Regions from separate parts of the Homo sapiens genome. Here regions 1, 3 and 4 are each linked to region 2. Evidence: fine-mapped expression QTL. A gene starts in region 2. Each other region holds a variant in brackets. All regions are shown on one strand. Distances are between the middles of the regions.

Region 1 (7,759 bases), 86 kb before region 2:
TTTCTGCATCTATTGGGATGAACATGTGATTTTTGTTTTTAATTCTGTTTATGTGGTGTTTACAGCTAACTGATCTTCGACAAAACATACAAAAACATAAAGTAGGGAGAGGGCACCCTTTTCAACAAATGGTGCTGGGATAATTGGCTAGCCACATGTAGGAGAATGAAACTAGATCTTCATCTCTCACCTTATACAAAAATCAACTCAAGATGGATTAAGGACTTAAACCTAAGACCTGAAACTATAAAAATTCTAGAAGATAACATTGGAAAAACCCTTCTAGACACTGACTTAGGCAAGGATTTCATGACCCAAAACCCAAAAGCAAATGCAATAAAAACAAAGATAAATAGCTGGGACCTAATTAAACTAAAGAGCTTTTGCACGGCAAAAGGAACAGTCAGCAGAGTAAACAGACAACCCACAGAGTGGGAGAAAATCTTCACAATCTATACATCTGACAAAGGACTAATATCTAGAATCTAAAATGAATGCCAACAAATCAGTAAGAAAAAAACCACCCCACCAAAAAGTGGGCTAAGGTCATGAGTAGACAATTCTCAGAAGAAGACATACAAATGGCCAACAAACATATGAAAAAATATCTCAACATGACTAATGATCAGGGAAATGCAAATCAAAACCACATGTGATACCAACTTACTCCTGCAAGAACGGCCATAAAAACAAAAAACAAAAAACAAAAAAACCCGTAGATGTTGGCGTGGATGCAGTGAACAGGGAACACTTCTGCAATGCTGGTGGGAATATAAACTAGTATAGCTGCTATGGAAAACAGTGTGGAGATTCCATAAAGAACTAAAAGTAGAATTACCATTTGATCCAGCAATCCCACTACTGGGTATCTACCCAGAGGAAAAGAAGTCATTATTCGAAAAAGATACTTGCACATGCATGTTTATAGTGGCACAAATCATGATAGCAAAATCGTAAACCAACCTAAACGCCCATCAATCAATGAGTGGATAAAGAAACTGTGGTATATATATATGATCGAATACTATGCAGCCATAAAAAGGAATGAATTAACAGCATTTGCAGTGACCTGGATGAGATTGGAGACTATTATTCTAAGTTAAGTAACTCAGGAATGGAAAACCAAACATTCTATTGATATGTGGGAGCTAAGCTGTGAGTATGCAAAGGCATCAGAATGATACAATGTGGGCTGGGCATGGTGGCTCACGCCTGTAATCCCAGCACTTTGGGAGGCCAAGGTGGGCGGATCATGAGGTCACGAGTTCAAGACCAGCTTGGCCAACATAGTGAAACCCCGTCTCTACTAAAAATACAAAAATTAGCCAGGCACAGTGGTGCATGCCTGTAGTTCCAGCTACTTGGGAGGCTGAGGCAGGAGAATCACTTGAACCTGGGAGGTGGAGGTTGCAGTGAGCTGAGATCATGCCATTGCACTCCAGCCTTGGTGACAGAGTGAGACTCCGTCTCAAACAAACAAACAAAAAAGAATGATACAATGGACTTCGGGGACTTGGGGGGAAGAGTGGGAGTGGGGCGAGGGATAAAAGACTACAAATATGGTACAATGTGTACTGCTTGGGTGATGGGTGCACCAAAATCTCACAAATAACCACTAAAGAACCTACTCATGTAATCAAATACCACCTGTACCCCAATAACGTACGGAAAAATAAATAAATGTTTAAAAAAGTTAGAAGCAGAATCAGCACTGTCAGAAGAACAGGAAGGCAGTCCCTCTACCCCATTTTCTGCTTGACTAACACACTGATTGAGGGCTCATTTGGAATTGAACAAAGACAGATGAAATTACTGCTGGGCTCCTTGGCACAAGAAGTGGCCTAGAGCACTGACTCTGGTGTGGAACAGTCTGGCATAAAATTATGCCTCTTCTATTTATCGGCAATTTCTCCATCTACAAAATGTGAATAATAGTACTTACATAATAGTTTGAGAAGATAAAACATGTAAAGTATTTAGCATAATTTCCCAAACACATAAATGCTCAATAGTATATATTAAATAAAACCAATGAGGAGGGATGACAGGATTTAGACTTGCCAGGAAGATCTTTTCAAAATAAATCAAGACTATTTTAAATCTGGAATGTTTTTCTCTTTAGTCAAAAGGGAATAAGAAGAAAATAATGTGATATTTAAGATATAAAGAAGACCTTCTGGAGTGCTCTGTAACTTTGAGCAAGTCAAATTAAGGCTGGTGGATGACAGAACGCGTTAAGAAGGAACTTGCATGTTTATCTTTCAAGGAGTAAATGTATCAACAGAGTAGGAACTCATTCTTTCAGGATCATTTATGAACAGCCCTGCCAGGAGAAAGAGCTGTGAACAAAACCATCTATCTAAAGTCCTTCAAGACCCACTGGAACTAGTAAGCGGCACTGCGAGCTGGGGGAAAGGAAAATCTATGCAGCTGCATTAAAAAGGAGGGCACTCAGAAATCAGGCTTTATATCCATTATATTATAGAATAAGGAGACAGGAAGTTGGAAAGACCAAAAGGAAGGAGAACTCCCAGAGATGGCCAGCAGCAGTAGAGAGAGTATTTTTGTGCTGGATGCTAAGGGTCTTTACAAGTGGCCAGAGGAACCTGAGAAAGTAGCAGTTCTTGGCAGAAAAAAAAATGTAGACCTTTGATTCTATTTTATTTAATAAGCCAAATTATGTTTTCAAATCAAAGTAAGACATATACATTTCTAATAATGAATTCAACTTTATTGCTGGTTTGCAGTCTAACTGCCAGGAGCCAGAGACATTTGACAGATTTATTTGGCAGTCCAAATGCTGATACTGTACTAATCTCAGAAATCACAACCCAATGTGCATCCCTGACATCTATTTTCAGTAGTTTATGCTCCTCCTTAAAGTCCCCCCAACCTTTTTTTCCTAGTAGCAGAAACTCACATTTAGCTACACCATACCCTAGAGAGCTTCATTCATTTGGCTGTTTTCTAAGCACATTTTCTCTCTTATTTTAAAAATTCAAGCATTAACTAAAATGCTACTAAGTCAAATTTTACTGTCCTGATTCTTTATCTGATCTCAGTACTTACTCTGATCTCCTGAAAATAATCAGTAACACAATTTTAAAAACTATAATTTTTAATCCATAAAGAAATCAATTCATGAAAAATCTAATTTCAGCAACTAAATTCTGACAAAACAGAGGAACAAAACTAAAACTCAATTCAACTCACTAAAAACTGTCCCACTCCCTGCCCCTGGGAAGGTTTAATATCTGTTCATAAGACAACATGTAATATGGAAAAAATAATAAAATGATCCTTTTAATTTCTTAATCACATGGTCTGAACCATTTTTCAGATAAACAATTTAAATTCTATTTTTAAAACCTGATAAATTAAAAAAATATTCATGAGGAGAGGCTGCTAATGGGTACAGGATTTGGGGGTGATAAAAATGTTCTGAAATTAGAGTGGTAATGGTTGTACAACCCTGTAAATATACTAAAAACATTGAATTATATACTTTAAAAGGGTGAATTTTATGGCATCTGAGTTATATCTAAAAATTCTAAAAATTTCCTTCTTCACTAAAAAAAATTCAATACGAAAAAGTTATTAATCTCTCTCCCAAACAAAATTATATGATTAAATCTTGCATAAATTCAAGCACATTATAAAAGCAGATTACAAATTTTGTTGAAGTGTAACATGGTAATGTTACAATTCTTCTATTTCAAAAGAAGTCTTTTGAAACAGTATTAGGACTTTCAAGAAAAATGAGAGAAATAAATCATTCACAAAAAGTAGTTAATGTCTGATTTTCTGGTTGATTAATTTCAGTTTACAGACTTTAAAAGTATTTTTTTAATTGGAATAATCCATTCATGTGGAGAAATCTAACTACTTTTTAAAATAATCTTTTATTTTTTTTAAAAAAGGTAAGTGTATTAATCTTTCTTATATTCACTGCCTTGCTATAGGTTGACTAAACATATGAAATTATATGTGCTTACCTAAAATTTGGGGAGGACACACATTAATGAGAATCTTAAGTTTTACAGATGCTGATATGCTCCTGGAGCAGCAAGTTCCATTTTTCAAACCCACAGGAAGAAGGGAACAGAGAATAAATAAACAAAATACTCAGCT[G/A]GAAGGAGGAGTTGGAGATGGTGTCACCTAACTTCCTTGTTTTGCTCACAAGGAGGCTGAGGTACAGAGAGGCGGGGAGCTGCCCAAAGTCACATGGCTAAATAGTGGCAGCGCCAGGACTACCACTAACGTCCAGTCCAGCGTCCTTCCCACTACAGTACACTGAGCACTCAAGGTTACTGGAACGAGGACTAAAATATCTTGGCATGTCACGCAAGGCCTGAAGTCAGCATTCTGCTTTGGGTGTAGACTCAGTGGGAGAGGGCAGAGGAAAGAAGCTGGCAAGAAAGTGACCTGTGGCCCTTCACACCTGTCTCCACCAAAGTTGAAATAAAGCTGTGTATGAATTTTCAACCCGTGACGGCTGGCAGTGACTCGGTGCTCCAAATGGGTTACCTGCTACAGACACAGGGCCCCTGCAGCACCTGCTAGGCATCCTTGTGAAGAGTCAGGAAGACCCAATTGCCTTGTAACTCTAATTTTGATTTATGTTTCCTGAAAACAAAACAAAATAAAACCATGATCCTTACACAAAAGAAATGTACCTTTTTGATTTATTGCTTGTTCTTGGTCTGTATTCATGTGATTCATCCTCAATGCCATTTTGCCTTTTATACCAGTCAAATAATGTACGTAGAATGGAAGGCAGGCAGTACTCAGAAAGGGAGCTCATTGAGCTGATGACCTATGGAGGAAAATGCAGGTGATTAGAACACTGGTAGCACTGCCAATTACTGAGAAACTTTTTATTTCACAAGTAACCCCAAGCACTACTCACTAAAATATTTTCTTCCGTATCACAGTCCTTTCTTTCATAATCTTTATTAGTACATTCCCAAGAGCCTGTCTCTTAATGGTGACAAATGTTCCCCATATAAGAATAATTTTGTAGTTCAAGAAAGTTAATTACTTTGACTCCCTTTCATTCTAGAAATCAGATGTTAATTGCATACAGGTTATTCATGGAACTGCAAAGATATTATGTTCCCACGTTCATCTGCCTAAAGTAGATGAATGCTTCTTCCGTCCTAAAAATGTTTGTTGTATAAATATATGAATACAGTTACATTAATAATTTACATGATATAAACAAATCTGCCCCCATCACCAAATAACCTAAGTGGTAATAATAATGTATGGTTTTGGACAATAATTATTCATTCATTAATTTGAAGTATGCCCCAAATTAGACTCAAAATATAAATGGGCAGCAATAATTTACCCCCTGTTACATTAAAGGCAAACTTCTCCCTTTTTCTTTAAAGAACAAATGTGCCTTTGGTAGAATTGTTATTCTAATTTCCTTATCTGGAAAGAGTCCTGATTTTTTAACTGATTACTATAAAAAAACACTTCAATCCATATCTCATTACTCTATGCAAAAGTTTCCACAAAATGCCTCATAAATTTAAGTATAAAACCTAAAAATATAAAACTCCAAGAAAACATAGGATAAAACCTTTGTGACTTTGTATTAGGCAAGGATTTCTTAGGTACGGCCCCATAAGCAAAGTCTATGATAAAATTTCATATAATGAAACTCTTCAAAACCAAAAACTTCTGCTTTTAGAAGAATTCAGTTAAGATCGTGATAAGGGACAAACCACAGAGTGGGAGAAAATATTTGCGAAACACATGTCTGACTAAGGCCTTGTCTCCAGAATATGTAAAACTACAATGAAATGGGTTTTAACTAGCTAATCAACAAACTGTATAAGCAAATTATAACGCCCAGAGTTGATGAGCAGTGATAAAGTGGATATATTCATATACCGCTGATAGAAAAAAACAGGCATAACATCTCTGGAAATACATATCAAGAACCTAATAAAAATCATTCCCAAGAAGGCCACTCTTAGAATTTATCTCAAGTCCATAATTAAAGATAAGTAAGAAGGTGCAGGACAGCATTATTTATTATAGCAAAAGGATGGAAACAACATAAATGTCCAACTACATGTAAATGCTTAATAAGATGTGGAATTTGGTGTGGACTATTTTTGAAACCATTAAAATCATATTTTAATATAAATATAAAAATATGACATGAAAATGTTCATGATATGGTAAATGAAAAAAATGAAGAATCATTTAATTGGTATGATTCCAATTTGTTAGAGATACTATGTAAGTATACATATGCAGAAAACAGGACCAGAAGGAAACATACTAACATATAGAGTGCATGTGAAAACCAGGGGTTCTTAGGTCAGATCACTAGAGGGAGAAGGAGGCTGGGAATTTAAGAGAAATGAAGATGAGAGTTTACCTGGGACTATTTTAGAAAGGGTAGAAATTTGAGATGAGACCCAAGAAAAAAAAAAGCAAAGACTCAAGGTAGAAAAAGCCTTTAGTAATGAAGGTATAAAGTAACTGTTGATGATTATCACAATTGATGTGACGAAGGTTTTGAGTGAAATGAAAGAAGAAATATCTGACTGGTATGAAGACTTTATTTTGCCAGAGTGAAGGAACATAATGCTGAAAATTTTTCTTCTCTAGAAAATGAGAAGACTCTAAAGATTTTTGAATAGGGACATAAGCCCATACAAATTGTGTATGGGGAGGCTGAATCCCCCAAACAGTGGGGTGATGTGGAGGCAAATTCACACACATGCTTGAACTGCATGAGGTGATGGCAGTGATTCCAGGCATTCTGTGATCTCGGCCTGAGAAGCAGAGATGGCAGAAGAAATGGAAATCCTTAGTTAACTCACAATATTTCTGCAGTTAAGCAGGCCGGGCTTCACTTCCTTTTATAAAGCAGGAAATGAGAGCAAAGGGAGCTAAAGTGCTTTGTGTCAATAGGATTTTCCACTGTCACCTTTAAAAGAAACCTTAAGATTGAACAAAATATTTATTGCTTTCTTTCTCACATTCTACCACTTCATAGCCTACTTCATGCTGTCTCTCCCATAATGATGGTTATATGTACACATACAAAATTGTACATTATCTTTAGTTATGAGTTAATATAAGGTAAAAATAAATAGGCTATTGCATTCAGCCTGCCCTGTTAACCTAGTCAGCATAAACTTTTTAAAACTGAAGAGCAATCTAATTATTTAAAGAGTCACCCTTCCCTTGACTCTAGTGAAATCCACAGCCAAGACATATTTTTCCTGCTGTGGTCATGAATGTAACAGCAGTAACTTTTCAGAAGAAAGCTAATCATGATGTGGCAAGGTAGTAATTCACTAATTCTTTCTAAAGTTATCCCAACATGAGAAAGGATATTTACTTTCCGAAGTCACCAACATCTAAAATGTTTTGAATTGAGAAATGAAGGACATTCCTCCCATTGAAGAAAAAGGGATCAGAATTCAGAGTTTCTGACTATAGGATGACTATCTTAATTATTACATAGGTAACGAAATTTCAAAGCATTACAGTTATATTTCAATAATTTAAAAATACTTGTGTAAATCTGCCGAATCTAAGGAGACATGATGACTAAACGTTCATGTGGTATGCTGAATGGTATCTTGGAACGGAAAAAAGATATCAGAGAAAAAGAAAGGAAATACAAATAAAGCACAGTAGAGTTTAGTTAACAATAATGTGCATGGAAACTGCACCCCCTCCCCAACAGCTTGCCCTACACATCTCTTCATCTATATCCTTTGCA
Region 2 (7,759 bases):
AGTGATGCAAGATTTTTCTACAGCAACATTAGACATTTCACAATGCACACCAACACCTTCCTACTGCAAAGAGATTGTTCAGTTCCCCAGAGCAGTTCATTTGTCAATGAAATTCTAAATATGCGAAAGAGTTAATGGGCATTCAAAAGTTTCCCTCGATGGTGTAGCAAGATTTGCCATATGTTATAGGAAGGATTCACACTGCCCTGGAAAGAGCAAGGTGTTGAACAGATTCTGAATGTACCTTCATTCATTGGGCCCTGTGTGTTCATCAGGCATCCTGGGGTGGACAGAGACACAAGGACGCCCTTTAGAGCTTTCAGATTAGTGTGGGGGCTCACACACCAGCTCTGTGAAATGGTATACAGCAAGCCCTTCTCTCCTGGAAAATAGCTTGAACTATCCACTTTAAACTTGTTCTCTAGCAAACCTAAGAGGCCAAAGTGACTTTCTGCCACTAAGAAAATTCCCAGACCAACTCCCAAGCTGCTAGAAAGTATGCACTTAGGGTAAGTGGGATATTTTAATAGTAAGTGAGGTAGAAAGTTAAAGTAGTCAAGGGGTAAAGTTAAAAATGTAAATCTGGGAGAAAAAAAACCAGCCCAAAATAACCAACTAATTTTGACATTTATTTATGTAGTTCTCTTCTCTAGAGTGTAGCAAGTGTTGATTACTCATAAAATAACCCACTTTGGATGCCAAGGCTAAGGGAAGACATGGTCTACATCCGATTTGAAGTGGATTTAGAAGGGAGGAGGGCATTAGAATACATGAATATTATTTTAATGCTTATTGGGCATTTACAATGTGCTAGGTATTGTGCTAAGTGCTTTACATCTTAATACCTCATTTACTCCTATGAGGTACCCATTATTTTTGCGTACATTTTACAGATGAGGAAACTGAGAGTGATTACTTAACTGTCCGAAGCCATGCAAGTGCAGGAGCAAGAGATCTGAAGCCCATTTGGCCCTGCCATTTTTACATTCTAGGTAAGCGAGGCCTTATTAGGAGACTGATGGGTGTACAGGCATGAATTTGGGAGCATGTTAGTTAAATACAGAGGAGAGTGAGTAGATTAAGCTTGGTTGGCTGGAGCAGAAAAACATGAGAGAGGATGAACGAGGAGCTCAAAGAGGGTCCTGAGTGGCTACCACTGACACTCAGAGGCAAAAGGGAGCTGGGGAGCAGCCTTTGACTGTGAGGACACCACTGGAGCATTCCAGGTTAAACTGAGAAGGGCATGTGGAGGCTGTGGCCATGATTAACAAGGGGCCGCAGCCGTGAGAACCACTAGACAGCTGGGGAAAGGCTGGATAAGAGCAGGGAAGAGCAACAGGACAGACATCCAAGGGGACAGGAAAGCCTCCATATTCAGGTCTACATAGGACATTTTATTTCCAGACATCAAGGCCATTTTAATTCCCACCTCCATTCAAATCAAAGGGCAGCATGACAGAGTAGACGTGCCGATAAAGAGGAGAACACCAAAATGAACATCGAATGAAAGCTAGTACATCTCACTAGCCAGCGACTGATCTATTTATTGGCCTGTGAATTCTTTGGAGGGGACTAATATATATATAATTACATTTTCCCCACAATGTGCCATTTAAAAAAATATGGAAAGCTTTACCTGGAAACGCTTATGGAATTACCTTTCTTCTAACACCTTGCAAAACAGCCAGTCATAGTTATAGAGTTTGTTTTATTGCTTTTTAATTACTGCACTTTTGTAAATAAGCACCACCATATAATTAAGAGGCTGAGTCTCCATTCAGGTATGTGGGCAGACATCCTCACCTCTCAAACTTGTGAGGCCAGGCATGCGCGTGCAGGTGCATGCAGGTGCAATTAGCCGCTTGCCTCATGGTGCATCCTCTCAGCCAAGGTTACACTGAGTATGTTGAGCCTTAGGGCTTCTGTTTCTACTTTGCCTTCTACACAGACAAATTCCTTTCTCTCTTTGCTGCTCAAAATATGTAAAACTTAGCAATGAGAACTATGCTAGATTGTAAGCAGGTTAGTGTTGTAACAAGCTTAAAGAAGATAAACAAAGTATATTTCCTCTTCCTCTTTCAAGAAAGGACTGAAAAACATTCTCCCCCTCAAAAGAATGCTGGAAAGCCACCAACTTCACTACTCTGAAATAAAAAAATTAATATAGTGGGCAGGGACTGTGTCTTATTCACCTTGTGTAGCCCCACAGCCTGGCACATAGTAGGTATTCAATAAATATTTGCTGAATGAATTGGAAGAATTCAAAATTGTATCACAGATATTCTCAAAGTAGAAATGAACAGTCATTTTGAATCATTTCCTGAAGTATGTATGTGGGGAGAGGAGTTTAGGAAGGGTGGAGAGAATATATACTTTATCTAGAGTGATTTGAAAATAGACAAGGGGAGAGAAATTTTTAAAAGAAATCCCATTGGCCTCAGTATTGTCACAACATAATTTTCTATTTAATGATGCAATGACAAAAATTGATGGAAGAAAACAGTCTGGTCTTGGAATAATCAAATATGTTTAAAAACCACGTACTGATGTCAACTCAAAAGTGAGTTTTTTCAGTTATTGGAAAACTGCTCCATAAAGAACACTGTATGTCAAATTCTTTTCATTAATCAAAGAGCAGATAGACAAAGGAAGATTCATCCTTGAGTGTAAAGTATTATAAAAATAATGAGTCCAAGTTAAATGATTTATAGCTATGACAAGTAAAGAATGCTGTTTGGGCAACAGTATTACTCCCAAATGGCTTCCCACTTGTAGAAAAACAGCTTCAGACAAGCCCCATAGTGTATACAGTGGTGCAAAATGACCTGGAAAAAATGGTTTCTATGGATATCATTTAGAGATGCACATCCCTGAATACCTTAAGGCTGAAGGTACTTTAGCTCTTTTCCTCAAAGCAATTGCAGCACAGGTTCTCCTGCCCAGGTTTTGTTTATATAAGAACAATCTTGGCCACAGGTCATTTGTGTAGGAGACAATTAATCACTAGCTCTTTGAGCACAGGTAGGTTAATCAGTATGCACATAATACAATATTAAAATTTTCACGGGGAAAAAATTTTTTTATTTAAAACAATAAAGCATCAGTAATACCTGCTGATCTTTTATCCAAAGCAAGTACAAAGGCTGTTAGTGAAATAGAGAAGACTTTCTTTTTAAACAGTTCGGAAAATACAAGGCATCATTGATCACCTGAAGGCCTCATTTTAATTTGATTCCAGATCCACGGCAGCTTAGAGGTTGTCTTTTTGAAATAGCGTATTGCTAAAATCCTTATGTAGGTCAGAAATGGAACTTCAGGAGCCATCATATTCTGCTATCCTAATAAATAATTAGGGTCAGAACCTCACTTGTTTATGTTTCAAAAAAGCACAATATTTGGACTATAGCAAACATCAGGATTTTTAAAAATTCAAATATTAAATGGCATTCAGAACATCATCCACATGGAAGAGGGAGAGATGAAATAAATCTGCAGATGCCTCTATATACAAAAAGGATGTCCTAGGTTTTGGACTATTAAATACTTTTCTTTCTTCAGACAATACCCTAAAAAAACAATTACAAAGTACTCTGAAACCCTGCCACACCCCTTTGATTAAATCACACTTCACAAAATATTTAGAGAAAGCCTGAACAAATCAAATAAACATCAAGGCAGGAAATGCAGCCAGGAATGCCTGATCCTGAGCTCCCCCAGAGTCTGAAGGGCTGCCTCACTTGAAAATTTAATCAAACACAATCTACTGTAATTCCATTGCAGCCTTTGCACTTAAGGAAAGCTAGTTCAGTCTCTGACATTTTGATTTTCACAGCAGATGGGAGCAAAAAAAGAAAGAAAGAAAGAAAGAAAAAGAAAGAAAGAAAGAAAGAAAGAGAAAAGAAAAGAAAAGAAAAAAAGAAAAACTTCCGCGGCTCACAAACATATGTGTCCAGTTGAGATTTTCTGTCTCCAGCCTTATGCAACATCCAGCAAACAAACAAACAAAAAGGTTATTTTCTATTACTCACTATTACTCCAGGATTTCAGTAAATATTTGATACTGATCTCAAAGAAGCCCGAATCCTGCTGGCTGGCCATGTCTGCGGCATACAAAGAGGCTGGGAGGACGGGCAGCGGCCGGGAGCAGGTACCGGGCGTGATGCGCCTGTCACAGGTTGTGATGTCAGCGCGGGGTCAGGCGCCCAGAGGCAGCTCTGCGGATCCACCTCCGGCTCCGGCCGGGAGTGCTCATCTAAAGGACACGGCGGAGCAGAGAGAGATGCTCGGCCGCTCCTCCTCCTCCGGGTCCAGGACTTGCTTCTTATTTGCTGGACGCTGATCTCCCTGCAGCCCTCGGAGGCGGCGGCCGCGCTGCTTTCATTTCGGGGCTGTCATCACCAGAAACGCCGGCTGCCGGCCGCCCACCAGCTCGGCTCCAGCCAGGTACGCAACCGAGGAAGACCCCACCTGAACTGGGATCGGCTTTCTTCTGGGAGGGAGGGTTTCTAGGCCGGCCTCCCTGACGCGGTGCAGGCAGCCTCCGGCCCACACGGCCGCCGCGGGGCTAAGGGATGGGCCGGGAGCGCCGCCCCCTGCCCCTGCCCACTGTCTCAACCTGAGCCGCGGCTCAGTCTCCGCCTAGGCTGCGGGAGGAATTTCCCAGCTTCTGCGGATCCTCTCTCTTCAGCAAGGCTTCCCGTGAGCGGCCCGGGTGTGCTCTGGCTGCTGCTTCCCCTTGTGTCTGTCCCTGAAATAAACACAACTGCAGCACGCTGCGGTAAGCAAAGCTGCAGCCTTGCATCTGGTTGCAGCGACGTTTTGAAAAACCCCATCCGTCAGCCTCGTTGCAGTAAAGAGACTCAACAAGAGGACGCTTGTCTGGGCTTTTTCTTCCCTGCCTTCCACACGCATGGTGGTATCTGCATTTTTACTTTTCCCTCCCAGAAATGCAGTCTTTTCAAGGGGCATCGGAGCCCGAACGTGTGCACTCTAAGGGGACAGTACACACTGCTTAGTTGGCTTGTTTTTGTAATGTCACACACTCCACAATGGATCTTATTCTCAAACCTCTCATTTCTAAGACTCACTAAGCCCAGTGAAGCTTATTTTATTTGTATGAAAAGGATAAGAAGCAAAAGCATTAGATTCCTTGCTCTACAATGGCTCTTGATTTCATGAATTCTTGATATCAGGTGTCCTGATTTTGGTTAGCTTTGTTTCACATTATCATTTAGCTTGACCAGGGGATTAAATAAGAGTATTATATTTTAATAATGACAGGTTATGTTGGAAGAGGTGGGATTTGGCCAACTATCTCATAAACCACAGGATCCTTCCCAAGTCCCAGTACATTCATGATTAATGTTGTCTAAAAAACAGAAAAAAGTAATAAACCATGTTAATAAGTATTTAACATAGCAAATGTTGGGCTAACTCCCCAAATCAACACACAAACAGGACTTCCTAGATTAACAGTTCATTTTAAAAATGGAAGGGAAAGACTACAATGTACTTTTATTGTTAGGACAAAGAATTTTTAAAATTCAACACTAAATAAAACTTCTAGAACTATGTTCTGAAAGGCCCTAAGATACTTCATCAATACAATTAGTTTTTCAAACTCATTACACTTACCCAAATGGCAAGCACTCAATCACTCAGATTTCCAACTCCACTTATACACTTTATTCTGATGAAATCTCTCACCAGATTGACTTCTTTTTAATTCATGTGCATACTAGAGTTGCTGAACTGATTTTATCACTTGTACTTTGAATGTATGGATTCTAGGTAAAATAAGACCCAAAGGTTTTACCTTGAAACAATTATTATATCTGAAAATAAATTTCATACCTACGCCCATCTGATGCTTGCCAAGACTCAGATGGCAGTGAATGAACAGGTAGGCTGCACAGTGCCCTGCGATTAACGATGGCATGGGCTCTCAAGGCAGGGCCCCATGTTCGCTCCTGGCACCAGCCCTTACTAGCTTTGAGCCCCAAAGTAAGCTATTAACTTTGCTAAGCCTTCGTTTCCTCATCTGTAAAATGGGGTTGTACCTTCTTCCTATAGTTGTTGGAAACAATAAATAACACTATGTATGAAAGGGGCTCAGCATAGTATCTTGCCCATAGTTAACACTTCATTAAATTTTAGCTACATTGATTTTTTTTTTTTTTTTTTTTTTGAGACAATCTCACTCTGTCGCCTGGGCTGGAATGCAGTGGTGCAATCTTGGCTCACTGCAACCTCTGCCTCCCGGGTTCAAGCGATTCTCCTGCCTCAGCCTTCTGAGTAGCTGGGGTGACAGGCATGCGCCACCATGCCCGGCTAATTTTTGTATTTTTAGTAGAAATAGGGTTTCACAGTGTTGGCTGGGGTGATCTTGAACTCCTGACCTCAGGTGATCCACCTGCCTTGGTCTCCCAAAGTACAGACATGAGCCACTGCGCCTGGCCCATTCATTCTTATTATGAATCCTTAGTGACTCTAGAATAGAACTTTTTTTTAAAAAGCTAAATACTTTTTTTTCTTTACTCTTTATGTGGTTTAAAAGATATATTACTTTTGAACACCAGTGGTAACTATTTGGGGAGAGCAAGTTGGAGACATTTAAAATCAGTTGCAATAAGCAAACATGCTATTGTATATTGTTACTCAAATATATAGAGATTCTCTCTGTTGACTTTATTTTAAAAAATTTTTAACTGGCTTTTTAAAGTTTTCAATACTTAAATACATAAGTTTTCAGTATTTAACTACTATAAACATACTAACTTGCTGAGAATGCCACTCATATATATTTCAAGGGAAACGGTCATAAAAATGTAAATGCTACTTAGAAAATAATGTTTTCAATGCCATCTAGCTTTCACTGTGAAGAGTGAATCAGCATCTAAGAGCCCAGTTTCTGTCTCTTAGAACCTGAAATCTTGTCCAGTGTATGCTTTTTCTTCATTCGAGTACCTTTAAAGAGGACATATATTGTAAAAGAACAGAAAAGGGCTTTTGTTTTGTTGAAAGGCCTGCAAATCAAATAGAATGACACCCGCTGCAAGCTGAGTTGAAACATTTATCCTTTTGTCTTCTCTCTCTCTGGGGGGGCATAAAAAAATTAGTCAGAAGAGGCACCTGGACAGAGGTACTTTAAAATGCAACAGTAAAATCTGAATGTGTTCCTGGCTTGCTAGTGACTTCAGTTATGATTTAAGAGGACCTAAAGCTATCTCAGCTTTCATACCTGTAAAAATGAGGGATCCTTCCTTAAAAATATTAGGAGAACATACAATGAATTGTCAAGCATGGAATTAGGCATAGATGTTGGGGACTGAGTGAAAGATAACAGGAAAAGTGGAAGGCCTTAGAAAATGGTATCAAAGAGTGGGGAAAAAGTCGGAAAGTGGCCTGACACAAGTGATGACACTAAATGACACCATCTACATTTGTTGAATATAAATATTGTAGTTAAAAAAATATATATTTTTATATTTAATACTCACCTCAAACCTATGAAGTAAGTACTATTATTAGTCCCATTTTACAGATGAGAAAATTGAGGCTTAAGGAGGCATAAAATAAGGTCAAACTCATATAGCTAGTAAAATTTAGGTCTATTTTAGACCCTGAGTCACTTGTCATAACTTTGTTATTTATTTATTTTTTTAAAAATCACAAGCAAGGTGAGAATCATGGTTACCAAGTTCTTTAGAGAAAGCTCAGGAAGAGGCTGGGCACAGTGGCTCATGGCTGTAATCCCAGC
Region 3 (7,759 bases), 57 kb before region 2:
ACAATTTTGGTGTACACGAATTACATCTTCACTTCACAATCTTTTCATATCATACATCTCTGTAATCTTTAGGAGGAAAGAAAGATGGCCAGACAGACAGGCCACAGTCACTTAGAAGTCTAGAGGGAGTCTGATATATCAAGACGTGTTTTATTTGAGGTATTATACAAGGGGTCATTTAATACAAATAACTTTCTACTTCTAACTTTTTAGTGGCCTTCCAAAATTTCAAGTGTGCTCCACACAGGTAAGATTTCACTAATCTAGAAAGATCCAAAGTATTACTGCCCTCAGAGATATTTCTTTTTTAAAAATGTGTTTACATTTAAGGGGTAGAAGTGCAGTTTTGTTACATGGATATACTGCGTTGTGGTGACATCTGGGCATTTAGAGAGATTTCAATGAATGTGTTTAACCCAGCAATGCTATTGGAGTTAATATGAGATTATTCAATTAGTTAAATATATCACTAACCTTGCTTAAGATGCTATTTTAAAGTCTTTTAATTATTACAACAGTGGATGTAGCAGTTAAGGGTGTGGGCTTTGAAATCTGAGAGACCTGAGTTTGAATCCTAGGTCCTCTCAACTTATGGCCCTTTCTTAACTTCTCTAAGCTTCAGCTATCTTTTAGAAAAAATGAGGATACACATAATCAGTTGAGGGTTTTGATATCAGCAGCAGTGAAATTTTATAATATAAATGTCTGGTCTTAGTGGTTAATAAAGAATTTCAGAATGGAACTACCACCATTAGGATCTCTCTTCTTCACCAGAACACGGGAAGATGCCTAGTGGTGAGCTTCCTCACCCCATGTGGTGGCACCCTTCACAGTAGAGAGCTGTGGACCCAACTGTGAAAATGCACCAAAGCGTTTTGTTCAGAACTATCTACACCCAGCCGCAGGCACTCTACTTCGTATGAACCAAAGAATAACGGGGTCCCAAATGTTTTCATGTCTGACATCTTTTTCTCATCAGATCTCATTTGTGCCAACTTTGACTCAAGTTTGGAAAAACATCTAAAGAGTGAGCCTGAAGACTCACAGTTCTGAATACTGACCATTACTCCCCAAATGACTTCCCCATCATGAGGGGTAATCGGCACCCCACTGGTGTGATTAATCTTGAAGATGTACTCTGGTCATGTCAATTGACTGACTGCATGGATCACTGGACTTCTGGTGGAAGACTTAGCCCCCTTGATAACCTGCCTCAGTTTGTAAAAATGGACATCACCCTATGACATCCTGAGTAGGTTTCTAATAACTAATGAGAAATAGTCAAAACCCTGACAAAACTTCTCCCCTTTTATTCCATTTAGTTATTAAAATGAATTTTCTTAAGCGAAATAATAAATGCTGCCTTTCACCTAAAATACTGGGGAAAAAGAAACAAAAGAGAATGATACAGAAGACACAGCACAAATAAATCCAAGGTACTATCAGGTAAGATGCTGCCCAGTACCCTATGCTATGAAAACTGAAGGCAGATGTAAATCTGGAAGAATATGTTGGCACTTTTTTTTTAAGCAAAATCTCTTGAGATAATCTGTCCTATTTGCAGTGGTTTTGCTCATTTCAGTGGAGCCTATTTCTCTGCCACATTTAACAACCCTAAGTACAAATCCATTATTTGAACAGTGGAAGAGAAACTTCACTTAAATTCAGCTACAAAGTTAATCTTCATTTTAATTGAACAAAAGAGCAGCTCTCATAGGCATTCTTTAAAAAAGAAAAAAAAAAGAACTACAGCAGCTACTAAGAAATGTAAGATACAACCTTCATTTGTTTGTTTCTGGGTAACTTTCTATTTTGTTGGTCTTTTCAATTTTATTTGTCCCAATATACCCCTCTAACTGTGCATGTTATGTTCACTCAGTAGACTTTCAGTGTCTACTACAGTGTGTGTGGATGGATCTTTTCCTATCTCCTTCAGGACATGGCTCCATCAGCCAGCTCCTCAGTGACCCCTGTCTTCCACCCTTCCCTTCTCTTCGGTCTTTCTCTCAGCTATCAACATGCTTAAACCTTTTCATCGTAGTGCCTTCCTTGACCACACATCCACCTCTGGCTGTGGTTTCCTTTTTTTTTTTTTTTTTTTTTTGAGATGGAGTCCAGCTCTGTCGCCCAGGCTGCTAGAGTGCAGTGGTGCCACCTCGGCTCACTGCAACCTCCGACTTCCGGGTTCACGCCATTCTCCCGCCTCAGCCTCCCGAGTAGCTGGGACTACAGGCGCCCACCACCACGCCTGGCTAATTTTTAATATTTTTAGTAGAGACGGGGTTCCACCGTGTTAGCCAGGATGGTCTTGAGCTCCTGACCTCGTGATCCACCCGCCTCGGCCTCCCAAAGTGCTGGGATTACAGGCATGAGCCACAGCGCCCGGCTGTGGTTTCCTTTCTAACCCTCTTCTCATATTCAGTTCTCCAAT[G/A]GGTGGTCTACACTTCCTGTCTTTCTTTCCTCTCCTATTCAAAATGTCTTCAACTACTTGCAATCTGGCCTTTCTTTCACCACTAAAATTAGTCTCCCTAGGGACCCCAGTAACTTTCCAAATGGCAAATCTGGTGGCCATTTTTCATGCTGGATCTTTTAGCTGCAATGTTCACTCCCTTCTTTCCACTTGAATTGCCCTCCACCTCCCATCTGTTCTCCTCCTACTTCTTAGACATTCCTTCTTCTTTTTTTCTTTTTTTGGAGACAAGGTCTCACTCTGTCACTTAGGCTGGAGTGGAGAGCAGTGGTGTTAACACGGCTTACTGCAGCCTCATTCAAATGGTCCTCCCACCTCAGCCTCTGGAAGCACAGGCATGTGCCACCACGCCTGGCTAATTTTTTTGTTTTTATTTTTTGTAGATAGAGATGGGGGGTCTCACCACGTTGCACAGGCTGGTCTCAAACTCCTGGACTCAAACAATTTTCCCACCTCAGCCTCCCAAGGTGCTGGGATTACAGGTGTGAGCCACTGTGCCCACCAGACATTCCTTCTCTGTGGCCTGCATAGTCTTTTCCTTGAATGTTCACATTCTTCATGGCTGAATCATCTTGGGAAAGCCTACAGGAATATTCCAACCCCCCTGCCTTCAACCTATGTGATTACAACTTAGGAATTGAGTAGAAATTCCCAAAAGCATCAGGAAATATTATCAAATAGAATATTGTGTTTTAAGAAATTTTAAAAGTCAGAATATACTAGATATGTATGTAAGCAACAGTAAAAATACCTAATAAAACAAGTCTTATTGTTAGCATGACCGTAGAAATCAAAATTTGTGCCGGTTAAAATTGCTACAATGCTATAGTAAAACTTGCTATTGCTGAAAACTGTACTGATGATTTTCAGGAATGTCAAAATGCAAAATGTTGTGTGGAAACACAGCAATATTACATCACAGTGACCTTAAGGAATGAGCCATTGTTACTTGGTATTATGCCATTATTATTGAACGTATTTTTATTGGTATTTTCTGTCACTCTAAAACATATACTTCCAGATGATCTTTTGTTTGTATTAAAAAGGATGTCTTTGTAAATAGTACAAAGAACATATCATCAGAAAAACTAGACCGAAATGAGGAATTACCTTTGTCTGGTTTTGTATTCTCAAAAAAAGGAAACTTCGATAATCTCTTCATAAAGTCACCAGAAATAAAAATAAAAATTATGGCCTTATCCATGAATGAATTGAATTGGATACTATTAAATTGAAGTAAAAAGCCCTCTGATATTTTTTATTACCTGGTGATATTTTCACATCATTTATTTGCTATAAGGTTCAATCAAACTATGGTGGTGTATTAAATTTCATTTCACATCTGAAAAAGTTCCATTTAGGAGCCACAGAAGAAATGTGTTTCATCTACATGTCTCCAAGCATACTCATGATAAAGAAAACAAACTTATGAGCTCATCTGAAAGATCACCTCATTCAGCAGTTAAATTGAATCTTTTTAGCTACTAACAATGCTATGTTTCTGGGTTAGGGTGAATTTTCAAGTTTTTGGTGAATGTCTTTATAGATTATTTAAGGGACGTTCCAGGCTAAGCTGTTTTGCTAAGAAACAGCTATTTTAAAAGTTATTTATTTATAATTTGAAAACTAGCCAGTATGTTGTCAAGTGTGATATAAATATTCCCTATCTGACCAGCAATGTTTTAGTCTCTTTTCAGGACAGCATTGCTTTGATTCTATCACTACACTCAACAGGGAGCTACATGAAATTACTTTTACTCTATATTTCCCTTATTTGGTCTGTTGAAGCAACAGCAGCCTCTATTTAAAGAGGAGTTTGACCAACAAGACTAGCTGATTATCCTTCTGGGAAGCTGACTGGAATCCACAGTGCAGAAAGACATTAAGGCTGGCATTTCTGCTATTTACACATCCTTAGTCAACAGACATGTAACCTTTGCTTAGTATAGGAAGATTGGCATGTAGAGCAGTGCAGAAAAACAACCAACTTGCAAATGGGCATGATAAAATATTATGAAATATCATATGGCTGAGGTTAGTAAATGGTGATAAGCCTATGAAGATGATTAGTAAATTACAATCAGTTTTATGAAGATCTGCCATATAAAGATCCAAACTTAATTAGAGGTAGTCATTCTGTCCTTTAGCACAGCAGAATTTCCAATTCACAAATTACTAAAATACTAAAAAGGGTTCCGGATGAAAGGATCTGATATTTTCTGATATCTAGAAGTCTGCACACACATCACTCATGTGAATGAATGAAATACAAGACTATGGATGAATGTTCAATCTCTAGATGGCCCAGAGGTGAAAAAACCTCTTTTACACCTAAAAATAGGGTGTATCCTAAATTCAGTCTCTTACTTCTCATCAGATATGGTCTAAAATCACAAGAGGAAGCTGGGATGAGTATGTATGTCACTTGCCAAAGGACTTGCTTACTTAGACCCACAGTCCCGTTCATCAAAATGACTAGAACCATTCATCATATACCATCTGTTGGTGGTGGGCCACCAGTGTCCTTATTACAGCACAGCGTCCTACTTAACTTTAGGGGTAACAGGAGAGTTGTCCTGATGCCAGCTTTGTAACATCAACACACAGGAGGAGTTGGAAGCCTCAGACTCTGGGCCAAGGAACAAAGGTATGTCAACAACGTTACTGCCTGAACCTGGAACAACACTAGCAAGCAGTAATGCTGTCATTAGCTAATTGCCTGGCCTTTCAGTGTTTGTGCCGGCTGGCCATGACTGATGTTCCTACAGGTTTGTTCTTAAGCATGACATATTTCATTACAGATTCATGATGTGTGATGCAATAGAGTTTGGCATCCTGGATTCTTCAGACTGTGTACCCCAAGAAAATAGTTTGTGTTACTTTGAGTTTACTTCTTTCATGTTAGCAAACCAGCTAGATCATGTTCTATTATTTTTAAGCCTCCATTCCAGCATGACACAGTTAGCACCTTTATGAATTATCACTCTGTCAGCCCACACCTGTGCTCCTAACTCAGCACAGGGGCAATGTCTAAAATATCCTGCCTGCATCTTGTCCGTTAACTATTTTGTGAACAAGGCTACTAAGGCTCAAGCAACCTCAATAATGAAAATCCCCATTTTCACTCATCTTTCGTCATAAAAAGTGTTTTTGAATTCCAGGGTGTTGGATGAAGATAAGCACAGCTCTCATTCTTAGTCTCTGCTGAAGGACAAGATTAAAGTTAGATTTTTTTTTTAAGTCAAGTAGACTTAAAAAAAACTTTTCGTTTTTCCAGGTTTCAAAATCAAAACACAGTAAATTACTTTCTTTCTGAGTAATTCTTTGTCAGGCAAGTTAGAATTTCTTTTTCTTCTTCCCGATGACATTTTATGCTGATAGACTAGATCCAGATGGAATTCCTGGCCCAATCCCCAATTTAGCTTCCACTGCAGCTCCTGGAAGGGACAATGGGAGATTAAACCTGGACAGACTCACTAATAAGTGAGTTTAAACCCAGGGATTTAAACCCAGGGAATTTAAGAGTTTAAACCCAGGGGTTTGAGAGTGAATGCTGCTTTTATTTCATTTGTTTTATACACTAGAGTGAAAATGGCCTGGCTGCTATCCTTTCATAGACGAGAAAACAATGACAGATCACACGTAGGTGACTTTGCCAGAAGCACAGGTTAGTGGCAGGGCTATAATAAAAAACCAATTTTCTTGTGTATTGGTCAAGTTATAGGGAGGGGCGTGGACAAAAGCCTAAGAAGTGTGATTGAAAATTCTTGAAATTTTCTAAACTTGGTTTACTTAGCTGAGTAATCCAGCCTTTCATATTTTGGGCTGCCTGGCCATTATGCGGTTCTTATTTTTTTCTGAGACCCCTACTCTCAAGAACCAATGAAATTTCCTCTTTGAAAGCCTTTGAAAACCCTCAGAGGCGGACTTACCTCAAATCTCTGGTTTTACCGCCTAGGTCTTCACAATTCACACCTGGGTAGGACTCAAGTATTTTGCTGGAAATACAGTGAGATCGTTGGGGGTGTTGTCTTCTCTTAAGTACTTTGTTTGCCTCTGTCATCTCCCAAAGCATGAGCACCTGGAGGGCTAAGACCAGGTCTGCTGAAAGGAGCTGTGGTTGTGTCTCTGTCAATGCCATGGCAGAGCTCAGGACAGGCACCTGACAGTATTGATAAATGGCAACAGGAGACAGTCAAGTCCCCTGCTCAAGCCTCCATTATGTTTGCGTGAACACAAAGAGAGGAAGCACCAGGCTGACTTCTGAGGAAATATACCAGAAATTCATCTCAGCCCTCCAATGAGGATAATGAGGAGGGTGGTGATGAGGACAAATGAGCATCTCCTACATGCTCAGGAGTGTATCAGGGGCTCCACACACTCCCTCTAATCCTCTCAACCACCCTGTGAGCTGGGTACTGTTACTTCCATTTTGCAAATGAGAAAAAAAGGAGGTTGACTGGCTGGTCCAAGGTCACACAACACTAAAGAGGTGGAAGCAGGAGTCAAATCCGGATCAGTCAGAATGAAAAGCTGTTTTGTCTTTAACTTTATCTCTTTTGTCCATTTGATCTACAAAGTCAAAATTGATAGCAGCACTTGAATTCAGAAAAACTGGAGAGTCTTGTTTTTGGAAAGAGCTTACTGAGAAGGTAATTGCCTGTGACTACAGTAATAGATGCTATATAGACAGACTCATAGAGAATGAGAGCATATATTCTGATACTGTGTCTGATCACTAAGAGTCACCCGTTGCTGGAGTCAGTGTGAGGAGAAGGTGACCATATCAATGAATAAAGAGGTATCCTTAGATGCCTGAAAGTAGGAGGCTGAGAATCAATGCCTCTTGTACTCAGCACATTTTAGGGCATTCATCTGTGCAAAGAACAGAACATAATCTATTATTATTAGTTTATTAGTTTAGAGTTGGCAAGATGACCTCTGGAAACACACAGGTTCCAATAAAGACATTCTTTTCAAGCTATTATATTAATGTTTCATTCATTCATTCAAAAAGCATGTACTGTCCATGATACGCAAACACTGTCCTAAACATGGGGACATGGGATATGTGTGTGTGTGTGTGTGTGTGTGTTTGCATGTGTGTATGTGTCAAGATGCATCCCACACAGATATTGCCTCCAAGGAACTTATAGGCTAACACATTGCTTCTTCAACTTAAGAGAAAATCTCTGCCCCTACCCCACCACCATAAAAAATACACTATGGTCTGGTATGCACATGCACAACTGAAAGTATCATAAAATGTTTACCCTTAAAACCTGTAAT
Region 4 (7,759 bases), 65 kb before region 2:
CAATGGAAGACGATTTAGCCTTAAAAAAGAAGGAAATCCTGTTATTTTTGACAACATGGACGAACCTGGAGTATTATTATTATGCTGAGTGTATAAGCCAGGCACAGAAAGACAAATACTGCACAATCTCACATAAACCTGAAATCAACAAAAGTCAAATTCATGGAAGCAGAGACTAGAATGGTAGTTACCAGGGGCTGGCGAGAGAGGAATGAGAGGAAATGGAAGATGTTGATCAAAGAGTACAGAGTTTCATTTAGATAGGAAGAATAAGTTCTGGAGAGCTACTGTATAGCATGGTGACTGCAGTTAATAATGTATTGTGCTATGGCCTCAATGTATCCCCCAAAAATTCATACGCTGAAACCTTCAAGGTGATGGTGTTAAGAGGTGGGGCCTTTGGGAGGAGATTAAATCACGAGGGCAGAACCCTCCTGAGTGGGATCAGTAAGAGGTCCTAAGGAGCTTGTTCTCCCCTTCTGCCATGTGAAGATGCAGCGGGAAGGCACCATCTATAAAGAAAGGGGGAACTCACCAGCAACCAAATATCCCCGTGCTTTGATCTTGGACTTCTGGGTATCCAAAACTCTGAGCAGTAGATGTCTATTGTTGATAAGCCATTTATTTTATAGTAATTTGTTATAGCAGCCTGAATGGACTAAGATACATTGTATACTTGAAAACTGCTGAGAAAGTAGATTTTTAAATGTTCTCATCACAAAAAAAATTTACGTAATGTGATAGAAATGTTAATTAGCTTGATTTACTCATTATACATATATCAAAACATCATGTTGTAACACCATAAATAAACTTATTTGCCAATTTTATAAAAAGAATCTGATGCTATAAGTGGTCCTATGTCTTCAATGGCAACAACATAATAAAAACCGTAAAATTTATTTGAAAAATTTAATATTTATCTTGGGATTTGACAGATAATAAAAAGTCACGGCCAGGTGCATTGGCTCACGTCTGTAATCCCAGCACTTTGGGAGGCCGAGGCGGGCAGAACACGAGGTCAAGAGATGGAGACCATCCTGGTCAACACAGTGAAATCCTGTCTCTACTAAAAATACAAAAATTAGCTGGGCAAGGTGGTGTGTGCCCGTAATCCCAGCTACTCGGGAGGCTGAGGCAGGAGAATTACTTGAACCCAAGATTGCTCCACGGCACTCCAGCCTGGTGACAGAGCAAGACTCCATCTTAAAAAATAAAAATAAATAAAATAAAATAAAAAGTTGAAAGCAATTCACTATTCCAAGTCCCTAGATTTAGAAGCAAAGTAAGGTTTATTTATTAGACTGGTACTGAGGGAGAACCTACCAATCATACATTTACTAGGTGTAACTGGTGAATTTGGGGCATGTGATTTTTCTTGCACCACATCTAGTTCTCTGCAAAAATAATATCAGTAGTAACAAGAGTCTACTACAGAAACAATTCACCTTAATTATTACATCTTTGTTTACATTAGGAAGCCTTAACTGATCTTCCAGCAGAGCATTTTTTTTTCAATTCAAAGAGTTTAATTCAGACATTATTGACATTTTGAGAACTCCAGAAAATGTAACTCAAAGCAAGACCTCAGTTTTCCAAACTGAAATTTCTGAGGAAAATATTCATCATGAATAGTTTTCTGTTTTCAATGCATTTCAGAAAGAAATTTTTACATATCTGGTAGAAGGATTTGAAGTATCTATTGTAAGTAAATTAATTACATGGGAAATGTTCATTCACACAAAGGAAATAGAGCTTTTATGCTGACTGTATTATACGTTTTCAAAATCGTATTTCTTTGTGCTCTTTCAGAGAGCTTTTTAAAACTCGGACAACTTGAATTTTTAATTATAGAATAATATATATTGCTAATTCACCCTTTCCAAAATGACTCAACTCACGCGGTATTGCTTTTTAAGCCTCCAGCAGAGCATTTTATGTTACTTACCCTTATTTGTGTGTGTGTATGTGTTAGTGTGTGTGTATGTATGTGTGTGTGTATATATATATATCTCTGTATTTTAGATGAATACACATTTTGAACCTGTATATATATACATATATACACATATATATATGTCTTTGTTATGGAAGTTCATTCTGATCCAAAATTTGGTTGAGGATTAGAAACAATGCAAAAGTTATATATCAAAAAATATTAAGTTTTACTTTGGCCAATGCAGGTTCCCTAGCAAGACTCCATTTATATGTACCTGCTCACATAGACCCTCTCACTGTGGGTCTAATCATTTCTCCAATCCTCTCCTCCACTCACAAAGATGATCTTACCTAAGGCATATACAAGCCCCACCCCTGCCCCAACTGTCTTTGTTCTTGAAGAAACGCACATGGTGGTCTTATCCTGCAAGTCTGAGGTTTCACCAAGAGCCTTACAAATCAACTACTCTGTCTCCATTGCAAAATATACAGGTTCAAAATGTGTATTCATGTAAAATACAAAGAATACTGTGTTCTTATGGGTAACATTTTCTGTTCAGAGTATACTATCTAGATATAATGAATAGATACTATATGTTTATTCATCACTCAACAGTGACTGAGGGTTCACAATGCGTCAAATGCTACATGCCGGGGTGGAACACTGAAGAACACACGATACACACTACTGGGGAGAAGAGTCGAGTCTGAGAGGGGAAATGTGGTTAATTTCCTCTTATGAGTGTTGTCTCTACTTGTTCATTATTCAAACCTCAGCTGAACTATCACTTCTTCAGGGAAGCCCTTCTCTGAGCCATCCCCTAACACCTGGTGTCTCTCCCTGTACATGCCTGCAAAGCCTCATGTATTTGTCCTTTCACTGACCTTACCATAGAGTAAAGTCACATCACAGTCATCATCTTGTGCAATTACACATTCATGAGTGAGGCACCGAGCACCATCCCTGCTAGGTGGCAGGCCCCAGAAATGAAGCGACCTCTGTTTCTTTCAACACTTAAAGTCACAGGACAGAGCATGGCTCGCCTGACATGCAGCATTCCACCTGATATGTAGCATGTGACATGCTGTGAACCTTCAGACACTGTTGATTGATGAATACATATAGTATTTATTCATTATATCTAAATAGTATACTTTGAACAGAAAATGTTTGTTTACCCATAAAAACACAGTATTCTCTGTATTTTAGATGAATACACATTTTGAACCTGTATATTTTGCAATGGAGACAGAGTAGTTGGAATTTGTAAGGCTCTTGATGAAA[C/T]CTCAGGCTTGTAGGTGAGACCACCATGTGCATTTCGCTTGGTGCTGGCTACGCATTTGCCAGATTAATAGAAGTTCTAGGACAGTGGTGTCCAGTTTTTTCAAATATGAAAATCCCTTTATTTTCTGTGTATATGTCTTGTTTTAAGTTTTAAATTTTTTTAAAAATACTCTTTATTGTGGTAAAATATACATAGCAGAAGATTTAGCACTTTAAAGTGTAGAAATCAGTGGCACTAAGTACATTCAAATGTTGTTCAAACATTATCATTATCTATTTTATGAAGATTCCTTTTAGTTCCAGAAATGTTCAAAAACTTCTTAACCAACACACACACACACTCCAAACATATAAGATAGTAATTTTATTTTAGAATCTATTGTTTAAAACTATACATAATGACAGAGAGCTAATACTACAGCTCCAATGATACTTTTAAATGGTTCTGGGCCGGGCACGGTGGCTTATGGCTATAATCCCAGGACTTTGGGAGGCCGAGGTGGGCAGATCACCTGATGTTGGGAATTCGAGACCAGCCTGGCCAACATGGTGAAACCCTGTCTCTACTAAAAACACAAAAATTAGCTGAGTGTGGTGGCGGGCACCTGTAATCCCAGCTACTAGGGAGGCTGAGGTGGGAGAATCGCTTGAACCAGGAGGTGGAGGTTGCAGTGAGCCAAGATCATGCCACTGCACTCAGCCTGGGGCCACAGAGCAAGACTCCATCTCAAAAAAAAAAAAAAAAAGGAAAAAAAGGTTCTGTACTAGAGTAGCAAAAATACTTCTTTTATACATACTAGAAACATGGGAATACATCTATATGGGAGACCTTAAAACTCAGACAAATGATAACTCAGCACACCTGTGGGTCTGTAGACCCCTACAACAACTCAGGAGTTCACATAGTGGGAGCACAGAAGGCAATCCTCTTTCACTACTACCTAAAAGAAGATCCTGCCACAGCGGGGAAAGAAAGGTGACTGTGTCCACCCACATCCCAAAGCTCCCCATACCTACCTAAAAGTTATTTTTGTCCCACTACAAATTAGATGGGAAGCTGATAAACATGGTATTTTACACTTACACATTTTTGCATACATATGAAGGAAACAACATATTGTCAGGCTCACTTTCTCCAATAAGCAAAGTTGATATATATATATAAGTTGTTGCTATACATAAAAGTCAAGTCCATTAGCTAAGAACTTGGGGTCAATGCTGCAATAAAATAACATGCTAAGTTGCTAAGTTTTCCTTAACTATTTTTACACAAATATACTATCTTTTTTTTTTTTTTTTTTTTTTTGAGACAGAGTCTTGCTCTGTCACCCAGGCTGAATGGCAGTGGCATGATCTCAGCTCACTGCCGCCTCTGCCTCCTGCATTCAAGAGATTCTCCTGCCTCAGCCTCAGCCTCAGGCTCTGGAGTAGGTGGGATTACAGGCACGTGCCACCATGCCTGGCTAATTTTTGTATTTTTAGTAGAGATGGGGTTTTACCATGTTGGCCTGGCTGGTCTCAAACCCCTGACCGCAGGTGATCCGCCCACCTGGGCCTCCCAAACTGCTAGGATTACAGGCGTGCCACTGCACCTGCACACAAATATACTGTCTTAATCATATTCTTTGAAGACTCAGCTTAAATGTCATTTCCCAGATGAAGCCCCCCCCCGCAGTTTTCCCTAGCAGAGTCACCTGTTAGTTGTCACACAGTACATTATTTGCACCTATTCTTGTTAGCATTCCCACCATGTTGTAACTTGTCTGTCTCCTCCATACCCCTAGTACACAGTTGGAAGTTATCAGGGTGTGTTAAATGGCTGACTATAACTGTATGCATTTGGAAAGATAGCTTTGCGAACAGAGAATCAGGTTCACATTTTAACATTACCAAGATTATCTTTGCATCAACATAGATTTTATCAGTGAGATGAGACTTGAGAGTACACCTAGGGGACAGAATACCATAGTAGCTAAAAAATAAAGAGAACAAAAGATGAAAGGAAGAAAGGGAGAAAGGGAAAGAATATAAGAAAGAGGGAAGAAAGAAAGGATGAGTGAAGAAATAAAGACAGGAAGGAGGGAAGGGAGGAAAAAAGGAAGGAAGAAAGATGGAAGGAAGGAAAGAGGGAATAAAAGGGAAGAAAGGAAGGATGGAGGAAGAAAGAAAAGAGGGGAGGAAGGATAGAGAGATAAAAAGAGAGGAAAGGTTAGAGGCAAACTTGCTCCAGCTCAGAAGAGAGCCATCTGAATACAAGGGAAAGATCCGTAAGTCTCAGGCCTGCTTCAGAAAAGAGACCTGTAAATCTAAGACCTCAAAATATGAAATTAGTACAAGAAAACATTGGGGAAAATCTCCAGGACATTGGTCTGGGCAAATTTTCTTGAGTAGTACCCCACAAGCACAGGCAACCCAAGCAAAAATTAACAAATGGGATCACATCAAGTTAAAAAGCTTCCACACAGTGGCCAGGCAGGGTGGCTCACGCCTATAATCTCAGCACTTTGGGAGACCAAGGTGGGTGGATCACGAGGTCAGGAGTTCGAGACCAGGCTGACCAACATGGTGAAATCCCGTCTCTACCAAAAATACAAAATTAGCTGGGCTGGGGGCGCACGCCTGTAATCCCAGCCACTTGGGAGGCTGAGGCAGTGAATTGCTGGAACCCAGGAGGCAGAGGTTGCAGTGAGCCAAGACTGCGCCACTGCACTCCAGCCTGGGTGACAGAGTGAGACTCCGTCTCAAAAAAAAAAAAAAAAAAAAAAAAAAAAGCTTCCATACAGCAAAGGAAACAATCAACAAAGTGAAGAGACAATCCACAGAACAGGAGAAAATATTTGCAAACTATGCATCTGACATGGATTAAGAACCAAAATATACACGGAGTTCAAACAACCCTATGGGAAAAAATCTAATCATCCGATCAAAAAATGGGCAAAAGACTTGACTAGACATTTCTTAAAAGAATACAAATGGCAAACATGAATATGAAAGGTGCTCAACATCACTGATCATCAGAGAAATGCAAGTCAAAACTACAGTGAGAAACCATCACACCCCAGTTAAAATGGCTTATATCCAAAAGACAGGCAACAACAAATGCTGGCAAGCATATGGAGAAAAGGGAACCTTCATACACTGGTTGGTGGGAATGTAAATTAGTACAACCACTATGGAGAACAGTTCGGAGGTTTCTCAAAAAACTAGAAATAGAGCTACCATATGATCCAGCAATCTTTTCCAAATACTGAGAGGAAATCAGTATTTGGAAAAGATATCTGCACTCCCACATTTGTTGCAGCTCTGTGCACAATAGCCAAGATTTAGAAGCAACCTAAGTGTCCATCAAGAGATGAATGGATAAAGAAAATGTGACACATATACACGATGAAGTACTATTCAGCCATAAAAAAGAAATGAGATCCTGTCATTTGCAACAACATGGATGGAACTGGAGGTCATTAAGTGAAGTAAGCCAAGCACAGAAAGATAAACATTGCATGTTCTCACTTATTTGTGGGATCTAAAGATTAAAACAATTGAACTCATAGACACAGAGTAGAAGGATGTTTATTAGAGGCTGGGAAGGATAGTGGGGGGTTAGTGGGGAGGTGGGGATAGTTAATGGGTAAAAAAAAAAGTTAGAAAGAATGAATAAGACCTAGTATTTGATAACACAACAGGGTGATGATAGCGAATAATAATTTAATTGTGCACTTTAAAGTAACTAAAAGAGCGTAACTGAACTGTCTGTAACACAAAGGATAATGCTTCAGAGGATGGACACCCATTCTCCATGATGTGATTATTATGCATTGCATGCCTATATCAAAACATCTCATGTACCCTATAAATATATACACCTACTATGTACCCACAAAAAATAAAAATAAAAAATAAAGAAAAGAAAAGAGAACTGTAAAGGTATGCTTCTGCTTGCAGTTCTACTGCAGCACACCAGTTGCATGAAATCCAAGATCTACACATTCAGATATCCTGGTTTTTAAAGAGCATTAAATAAGTAGTAAAGCAAAATTAGCACAGAATACACAATGGGTATTTAACCAACAAGTGGAAACTGATTATGGCAAAGGAAGCTCAAAATAATGATGCCATTCATCAAGTAAGAACAGTATACTTCAAGTAAGAATAGAAAGACTTCGTATACTTTAAAAATTTGTCTTTGTTCTATATTTTGGTACAATTTTATTTATGTACTGAAGTTTCATGAATTGAATTGAATATGTTTATTTTCACAAAATCATTCTGAAAAAGCATAACTTTGGGGTGATGGGTCCCTGAAAGTTCTTAGCTGGCTAAAGCTGAAGACCTTAGGTCTGACCAGATGCCCCAGCTCACTGAGTGACAGTGAACAAATGAGGACCTGGGGCCCTGGGAAAACCCAAAATACTGAGACTTGGCGCTGAACATCAGTGGCTGCTCACAGCACAAAAAAAGTGAAACCCAGACATTACGTCCCTTCTGATGGAAGAAAGCAGTATGAAATAGTCTTGACTAAACAAACAACAAGCTCAA

What was found.
Region 1: its variant is fine-mapped to the expression of FRY in whole blood (TOPMed, PIP 0.91).
Region 3: its variant is fine-mapped to the expression of FRY in whole blood (TOPMed, PIP above 0.99).
Region 4: its variant is fine-mapped to the expression of FRY in monocytes (Quach 2016, PIP 0.90).

What each region holds. Positions count from the first base shown.
Region 1 is chr13:32,114,391-32,122,149 of GRCh38, reverse strand. FRY (FRY microtubule binding protein) reads right to left here. Exons shown (of 61, transcript NM_023037.3): 4 at 4,677-4,816. Among named protein-coding and RNA genes, the nearest start is that of FRY, 86 kb to the right of the region's middle. The variant G/A (reference allele first, on the strand shown) is at 4,132.
Region 2 is chr13:32,028,135-32,035,893 of GRCh38, reverse strand. It overlaps FRY (FRY microtubule binding protein), which reads right to left and starts at 4,120. Exons shown (of 61, transcript NM_023037.3): 1 at 4,029-4,120. The coding sequence starts at 4,098. FRY-AS1 (FRY antisense RNA 1) reads left to right here and starts at 4,255. Exons shown (of 4, transcript NR_103839.1): 1 at 4,255-4,443.
Region 3 is chr13:32,084,696-32,092,454 of GRCh38, reverse strand. The region is part of intron 2 of FRY (FRY microtubule binding protein); the gene reads right to left. Among named protein-coding and RNA genes, the nearest start is that of FRY, 57 kb to the right of the region's middle. The variant G/A (reference allele first, on the strand shown) is at 2,432.
Region 4 is chr13:32,093,573-32,101,331 of GRCh38, reverse strand. All of the region lies in intron 2 of FRY (FRY microtubule binding protein), which reads right to left. Among named protein-coding and RNA genes, the nearest start is that of FRY, 66 kb to the right of the region's middle. The variant C/T (reference allele first, on the strand shown) is at 3,224.